3 separate regions of the Homo sapiens genome follow, and regions 2 and 3 are each linked to region 1. The links come from fine-mapping of genetic effects on gene expression. A gene starts in region 1. Each other region holds a variant in brackets. All regions are shown on one strand. Distances are between the middles of the regions.

Region 1 (2,754 bases):
GCAGAAGCCTCTGTATTAGGGGCAGCTTTACGGCACTCTGGGCCCCTTTTACTCTTGGCCAGGGCCAACGCCAAAGGCTAGATGGTCCATGCTTCCAGGTAGCGTATCACTGTTCACAGAAGCAGAAACAAGTAATGGGGCCACCTCCACCCCCCCCAGGTCCCTGCCCTCGGAGCAAGTGGCCAGTGCCCATGGTGCCTCGAGGCAACAGCTGCCCCTCCTGCCCCCTCCCAGTCTCTTTCCTGCAGTATCTGGGGACAGACAGGTGATAGAGTGTCACTCTAGTTACTATTGAGCGAACTGAAGAAAATCCACATGGAAGGTTGACATCTACCATACCTCACTTTCCCCTCTCTTGATAGTAAGTGTCTAATCTTTCCCTCCAACCCCTGTGGGCAAACATGTCCATGCGTTCTTTGAGTTCTAGCTACTGGTCAGTAGTTCTGAGTGTAGGATTGACATGGTGGGAGGAGGCAGAGCTTTGGGACCACACCGCCAAGGTCCCTGGGGCCTAGAGGTCCAGCGTGCCCGCCTCCCTTCCTCGCTGTGCTCCTTTCTCTCCCCCCCACCCCCACGCTCCTGGTTTCTGGAGCCGAGCTTGGGGTGGGGAGGCAGCAGGTAGGGTCTTCAAGTTGGAGAGAAACCCCGCCCACACCTGGACCTCGCCCCTCGCTGCCATTCCCAGCCGAGGCCGTCAGGGGCCTGCGTTTTGAGAAACACAATCTGGAAGAGAAAACCTGGGCCTTTTCTTCTTTTATCCCCTGTCCCCGCCCCCCTACACCTCTTACAAATTTAGCCCAGGAGCTTTCTATCCCCACCGACTTGAAGGGTTTATCGGTCTTAAGAGCGAAATCCTGGCGGAGTGCAGTCCCTCGGGGCTAGCATCCACGTTCCGCCTGCGCCCTGCCCGGGCTGTTCCGAGGGATCCCCGCAAGGGCACTGCCCCAGCTTTCACTCTTGGAGTCGGGGAAATAAGGTGTCCACAAAGGATGCAAGCAAGTCATTGTCAGTGCAGACCCGAAGGGCGCGTCCGGAGTGCAGGTATGAAAGACGGGCGCATGCGCGCAGTCCGGGGCCGGGCTTCGCAGCCCGGGCTCCGCTCTAGCCCCGCAGCGTCTCGGTGGCCGGTCTCGTCCTCCGCCCGCCGCGCGGGGGCGCCGCTCTAGCCCCGCGCCATCTCGGTGGCCGTCCGCCCACTCCGCGGCGTTCGGGGAAATGGCTGCGAGACCCTAGAGGCCTGCGGCCTGCGGTAAGTGGCGTCCCGGGCGCCGGGTAGAAGAGCCGGCCGCCGCTTGGGCCGCCCTCGGGAGCGGGGCGGGGCCGGCATCGGAGCCCGGCTGGCGAGAGCCGCGGATCCCGCACAGGCCGCTCCCGCCGAGAAGATGGCGGCCGCGGAAGGGAAGGAGCGGGCGGGCGGGCGGGCGAGCGGGCGGGGCCGGTCAGAGCCGCCGCGGCCTGGGGCGCGGGCCTCAGACGCCGGCCCTGGTGGGCTGCGTGAGGTCGAGGGGACTGGCGAGCACTCGGTGGTCGCGGCTGGAACGGTTCCGAGGGTGGGAGTCGGGGCGGCCGCTCGCGGGGAAGAGCGCAGGGCTGGCCTGGGCGAGTGCGGCCCGGGGCTCGGGGGCTGCGTAGCTGGCTTGTAAGCGCAGCTGGTTTCCCTAGGCATTCTCGGGGACCTCGGCGCTTCCTCCCGGGCCTTGGGTGCGGTCGGGGTGGCCGGCTTAGCTTCTGGCGTGCCTTCGGGGGATTCCGGCACTGCAGGGGCGGCTGGCGCTGCAGGAAGCGCGAAGAGCCCGGATTCGCTTTTCTGAAGAGTGTGTCCTTACCTCCCCGCGCTGGTTTTCAGTTTTTTTGTGGAATAGTTTGTTGCGTTGGTTTGTACTGGCCGTATTTGTGACACATTTTGCCTTCCAGTGACCCCGGAAGCCGAAAGGGCCCGCTCTTGCGCTCGGCGGGAGGGGTGCTCGTGCTGCCTCCGCTGCGGCGTCCGGGGCTCCTTCTCGCGGTTCTGAGACAGTGGAGGTCAAGGCCGGCTTTTCTGCTCTAAATAAAGGACTTTAATATATAAGTTTAGAGTTTGGGCCACAGGTAGCAGTAGCTTACTGCGTTACCAGTTATTGAAAATACTCTTTAACTTGTGCCTGGGCCTTCGATATCCGTGTCATCTGTCTGCTGATGGAATGAGATTTGAGCCTAGTGTACTCAGGGACTTAGAGGAGGGAAAGGCAGATGGGAACGTCTTTTCGGTATATTCACATAACTTTGCTATATACCCCGTGTTCCATGGTTTCCGTAGGGCCACATATGACTTGGTTGAAATACAGTTCTGAGAAAGGTCCTTAGCAGTGCCTTTTAAGGAGTAAATACAGTCTTTTTTTAAATGAGCATTCATTGCTTACTGTTAGCACGAGGGATACAGCAGTGACCAAGGTGGCCCCTGTCCCAGTCCTGGAGACAAGTTCACTGGGGAACTTGAGAGATTATTCCAGCTCCTTCCTTTAAATCAGGTGTTGCCAACTCGTTTACCTGGAGCCTAGGGCTCTTTAGTGGCCCTTTGGGTTGCTGTTAGTGTATGTGTGTCTGTGACTATTTCACTATTTTAAATACGGCATAGACATCTCAGAAGTGTCACCCAGGAAGACAGACACAGCCCTGTTGTGAAACTCCCTGCTTAATGCACACTTGTTTTCCTACTTGCTGTGTACATGGGGAGGAGATGTCTGTTCTTGTAGACTTGTTTCAGCAAGTTTCATA
Region 2 (2,754 bases), 35 kb after region 1:
AAAGGCTTTCTACTTTTGAAATTCTCATTGCACAGAGAGACATTGACTTTTTTTTTATGGTTTTGTTTTACAGCACTTCAGAATCACGTTCCCCTCCAGAGGGAGACACGACCCTCTTTTTGTCTCGACTCAGCACCATTTGGAAAGGATTTATTAACATGCAGAGTGTGGCAAAATTTGTCACTAAGGCGTATCCTGTCTCTGGGTGTTTTGATTACCTCAGTGAGGTTAGAACCAAGAAAATGTGTGTGCGTGTGTGTGTCTTTCATAGGAGTTTCTAAACTAGAGTCAAACACATGACTTTCTCCCTTAATTCATGAGGTAGGAGAGAAACAGAAATGCCTGACACTCTTGCAACCGTCTGTCTGGATGCAGAAACGGCTCTAAATGCAAAGTGGCGATGGCCGTGATGAGTCCGCAGGTTCAGCAGTTTGGACAGGGTCGGAAATGTGAGCCTGCAGTCTGGCCTCTCAGTGATCGGTTTCGCTGGGGCACTGACCACATGGCTGTGCGCACAGCCACCGGCACAGCCAGGTGTTCGGAGCCTGCTTTACACACACCTGGCCACTTGCGGGGTGGCGCATATGACCCCGTGGCAGGCCTTTTAGTTTTCAGAATTAACCAGAAGACAGCACTAGCATTTATGACTTTAATGCAAGGAGTCACCCTGGCTCATAGTGAATCGTTACTCTCTGTGTATGTACGTAAAGACAGCATAGAAGTGTTGGGCAGTCATTTCTAAACATAATCTTGTCTGGCAGAAGGTTGGCATCACTCCCCCTTTGGATTTGGCCACTTGTCATCCTGGACTTAATGCATTTAATACAAGTGTGACTCTTTTCCTTGGAATAGCTGTAGTCTTCTTGAATCTTGGGTAGTGTGTGCCTTCACATGGCTGCATTCGTCTTTCTGTGACTACTACAGTTCAAAGTGATTTACGCAAAGTACTTTCTGTTTAGGATTTGCCTGACACAATTCACATTGGTGGGAGGATCGCACCGAAGACAGTTTGGGATTATGTTGGCAAACTCAAGTCTTCTGTGTCTAAGGTACCTGCTTATAGTATAAATTCTGCAACCATGGAAAATTGTGTTGATTTAAACACATCTTTTTTTAACCTCTCGTTTGGATGGGTTAACACTTAAAATGTTAGCCTGTAGCTTACTAGATATTTCCAGGTGAATGTTAAAAATTAAGTTTTGCAGTGAGCCGAGATCGCACCACTGCACTCCAGCCTGGGAGACATAGCAAGACTGTCTCAAAAAAAAAAAAAGTTTACATAGTTGTATGACTGTGTGAAGGTGTCTGAGTGTGCCGCGGTAGAAGTTTGTTTCTGATTTATTATAATGTATGTGCGGTTAAATTTTAGGAAGAAATAGATACGTTTTATTTTCTTGTTTTTTTATGATTGAAGGAGCAGAAGGTGTCTTTTGCAGGGGTGATCAGGCTCAGGGCACTCAACCTGGGCTCTTGAACGGT[T/C]CTGGTTTTCTGGGACCCCCTGAGATTTAGCTACAGCTGTGCGTGTCTGTCTGTGGTTTTCTCTGGGGAATCTCTGTAGTCTTCGTCAGGTTCACGAAAGGGCTAGACCCTGTCGTCTAGTTTAACCCCCTCTAGGGAGGGGCACAGACAGCCATTGCAGATCATGCAGCTGGTTCCTCGTGACCGGGGCCGTCGTGCATGTAGGAAGAGCCGGCTCGGCTCCAGACACTGCTGGGCTCACATGTCACGTGAATTGCCTCACTGAGACAGCAGCTCTGTGAGATCGTGGCTGTGAGTCGGAGAGATCTGACAAGGTTTCCTGTTGAAAGCAGGATGTGAATTGGGCGTGTGATGCTTGAGCCACATTTTCTTTATGAGTGCTTCCCACTCTTCCATTGCAGGAGCTCTGTCTGATCCGCTTCCACCCCGCCACAGAGGAAGAGGAGGTCGCCTATATCTCTCTCTACTCCTATTTCAGCAGCCGTGGCCGCTTTGGTGTTGTAGCTAATAACAACAGGCACGTCAAGGACCTCTACCTGATCCCGCTGAGCGCCCAGGACCCTGTTCCATCCAAACTCTTGCCCTTTGAGGGACCAGGTAAGCGCCGGCTTTCTGGGTGGAGGTGAGGCCCACCTGCACCTGCACCCCTCCTCCCACTGACATGCCCTGCTGAGTCCTGACCAGCCCAGGGCTCTCTGGGAGCAGGAGTTAGGAGCACAGACGCAGCGGTTAGCAATAGGATTCATCTTTGAGGGCGTAGGACTGTGGCACGAGAAGTACCCCTGATTCACAGCATAAATTGTCTTAGGAGAGTTTTTTAGAGAGGGAAAAACCCACAGCCTGCAACCAGCTCATCTTGGCCTCAGGTCAGAGAAGACTCAGTGCCCAGAAGCCCAAGGCTCAGCCAGAAAGGGAGGTGACACTCCCAGCGGCCCTGCTCTTTCCTCTAGACAGACTCGGGAGCCAGCACACACCGGGAAGTGGCTCCATCAGGGATCACTTCTCTAACAGGGATGGATTTCCAGGAGACTTAACAATAATGACATAGAAAACTATTTCTAGAAATAATTATTTTAAAATCTGCAGCTCAAATTGTAATAGGTTCATTCATCTTTGGCAAGCTATTTTGTGTTTGCACGTTCCTTGGAAAGTACTGTATTTAAACGATTATTTACAAATAGCCTAAAATACATCTTTGTCAAGGGTTGAGGGTGATTCCAGGGGCCACGTGCTCTGTTAGTGACCAGCTCTTTCATAGCCCCTTAGAAGAAGCTG
Region 3 (2,754 bases), 30 kb after region 1:
TACAAACAGTTTGCACTTGAATTCATAATGATAGTGCTGCTGTAAATCTGCCTTTTAAAAAGTGATGATAGGAAATTGTCCTTCAGCTTTGAAGCTTAGCTAGTGCGCAAGTCAAGCCTTTAATAACTAGAGTTTGCTGGTTGAAGGTAAAAGATAGAATAATAAAGCATTCTTCTTTCTGAAATAAAATGTAGTCACCGTCATAAATGCTGCTGGCGGTCCTCCCTTACACTCCTCTGAACACTAACATTTTACAAATCCTTTTCTCTATGTGTATCCTATTCAGTAATGCCAGGTGGGCACTTACAGGTTTAAGGGTAAGTCTGCTTTTTAGAGTCAGGTGACAGCACCCTGTGGTGTCCTCCCTTACTCAGCGCCTGTGTTCTTCTTTGTAGCCACGAAGGAAGACAGGAGGTCCGAGGAGAAAGCGGCAGCCATGGCAGCCTCAAAGAAAACAGCCCCTCCAGGCTCCGCGGTGGGCAAGCAGCCTGCACCTAGAAACCTCGTGCCAAAGAAGTCTTCTTTTGCTAATGTGGCAGCAGCCACACCAGCCATTAAAAAGCCACCCTCAGGTTTCAAGGGCACCATCCCCAAGAGGCCATGGCTCTCCGCTACCCCATCGAGTGGTGCTTCAGCTGCCAGGCAGGCCGGACCGGCACCTGCAGCGGCAACGGCTGCCTCCAAGAAGTTCCCTGGCTCCGCTGCTTTGGTGGGAGCCGTAAGGAAGCCAGTGGTACCTTCTGTTCCAATGGCCTCGCCAGCCCCAGGACGCCTTGGGGCTATGAGTGCTGCACCATCGCAGCCAAATTCACAAATTCGGCAAAATATCAGACGCTCCTTAAAAGAGATTTTGTGGAAAAGGTGGGCTGTTCTGCTTGATTTCTTACCCATTAAAATGGAAGGGCTTTCATTAGAGTGTGGCTGCAGGATTGCCTCACTGTTCAAAAAGTTTAATATACACAAGTGTCTTATGTAGTTCCTTTTTTTTATTCTGTTCAGAGTCAATGACAGCGATGACTTAATCATGACAGAAAACGAAGTAGGAAAAATTGCCCTCCATATTGAGAAGGAGATGTTTAACTTGTTTCAAGTTACAGATAATCGCTACAAGAGTAAATATCGCAGCATCATGTTCAACCTGAAGGACCCTAAAAATCAGGTGTGTGCCTGGTGTCGGTGCATTGGAGTATTCCTGTTCTGTTCGCTGGGTGCTAAAGGGATCAACCAATATTTTGAGATGTTCGTGTCCTTTCCAGGAAAGCTAAGACGTTTCTTTCTCCTCTGTGATCCTTCTGCCGCCCACGTATTGTTGCACTGGCGTTGAGCGTCCTGGAAACCCCTTCCCTTCCCTGCCTTAACTAGGGT[C/T]GCGTCCGCTTCCTGGCTTCCCTGAAGTCCACCTTTTATCACCACATTAGTCTCCTGTAAACATTGCTGTAAAGGTACAAGCCAGTCGCTTCACTGGGCTCCAAAATAAAGTCCAGTTCTTCATCCCAGTGTATGAGGGTGTCCGTATTCCGGCCTCAGACAGCCTTTTCCACCTTATTTTCTCATATTCCTCATCAGCCGAGTGAGCCTGATGGTTTGGGCTGCTTGAGTTCTCACCACTTGGAGCAGGGGCTGCTCACGCCCAGGTAGTGGGATCAGTCCTTCCTCACTGCAGCATGGGCCATGCGACGAGGACAGAAACTCCAGCTGGGAGGGATAGGCCGCCGGGCTGACAGCCTTGTGGTGTTCTCTCTCCATCGGCCTCCAGGCTCCTCCCTGTTTAGAATTTTAGGATAATGAAATACCCTGACTTTGCATCTCACCATTGAACAGCCCTAAACAGAAATGATTTCTTCCTTCCTTTGTTCCTGACGCTACCTTTTTGACTTGTGTCCACCTTGTGTACATAATTGTTTTTCCTGAGGTGTTGTGTGTTGTTTTTTTTTTAGCAGAGCCAGTGCAGCACAGGCCGTGAAACCCACTGTTGAACCTTATTACCTGTGCTCTCTGGGCTCCCATTTGCTCACAGCAGGGATATCCTGGGGCGCACTCTCATAAGGCCGTTTGGGGAGTTAGGTCACACCCTGCAGGGAGGGCTCTGCCCAGTGCCACACGCAAGTGGGCCCTGAGGGCCTTTGTCCTGTGCCCGCTAAACTTCTGGGCAGCTGTGTTTTCCAGAAGCTCTCTGTATTGACAGATATAGGAATATTATTTGAGTAAATGAAAAATACTTGTTTATAGGGACTCTTCCATCGTGTTCTGCGTGAGGAAATCTCTTTGGCGAAACTTGTGAGACTGAAGCCAGAAGAACTTGTATCTAAAGAGCTTTCCACGTGGAAAGAGAGGCCAGCGAGATCTGTGAGTGCTGAGGGGTACCTGCGGAGGCACCCAGGACTCGAGCTTAATAGAAATAAATTCATAGACGGCTGCATAAGCGATGCTTTCCTCCTAGAAAACAAGGCCTAAGCTCTGTTTCGTCTTTTTCATTTCAGGTGATGGAGTCCAGAACTAAACTGCACAATGAAAGCAAGAAGACGGCCCCCAGGCAGGAGGCCATCCCCGATCTGGAGGACTCTCCGCCAGTGTCGGATTCAGAGGTAAGCATTTGGGAGATTTTGTGTTCACCGAGAATAGACTAATCCATCCCAAATGTTTTGAGGTTATCTTAAATTATTGGGCAGGACCTGAGCTTACAGCAGGTGTATGTCATTGTGGCATTCCTCAGTCCTTGTATTAGATGGTCCTTTTTTCTCCCCCGTGGGTCTCAAT

What was found.
Region 2: its variant is fine-mapped to the expression of DIDO1 in whole blood (INTERVAL, PIP above 0.99).
Region 3: its variant is fine-mapped to the expression of DIDO1 in whole blood (INTERVAL, PIP above 0.99).

The regions. Positions count from the first base shown.
Region 1 is chr20:62,924,927-62,927,680 of GRCh38, reverse strand. DIDO1 (death inducer-obliterator 1) reads left to right here and starts at 1,176. Exons shown (of 16, transcript NM_001193369.2): 1 at 1,176-1,242. RefSeq lists enhancers at 1-190, 1,073-1,686, 2,029-2,078, 1,687-2,300 and silencers at 989-1,428, 1,499-1,588.
Region 2 is chr20:62,890,282-62,893,035 of GRCh38, reverse strand. DIDO1 (death inducer-obliterator 1) reads left to right here. Exons shown (of 16, transcript NM_001193369.2): 13 at 74-227; 14 at 960-1,049; 15 at 1,881-2,076. Among named protein-coding and RNA genes, the nearest start is that of SNORA117, 8.8 kb to the right of the region's middle. The variant T/C (reference allele first, on the strand shown) is at 1,480.
Region 3 is chr20:62,894,638-62,897,391 of GRCh38, reverse strand. It overlaps DIDO1 (death inducer-obliterator 1), which reads left to right. Exons shown (of 16, transcript NM_001193369.2): 7 at 396-861; 8 at 1,000-1,159; 9 at 2,227-2,343; 10 at 2,478-2,582. Among named protein-coding and RNA genes, the nearest start is that of SNORA117, 13 kb to the right of the region's middle. The variant C/T (reference allele first, on the strand shown) is at 1,366.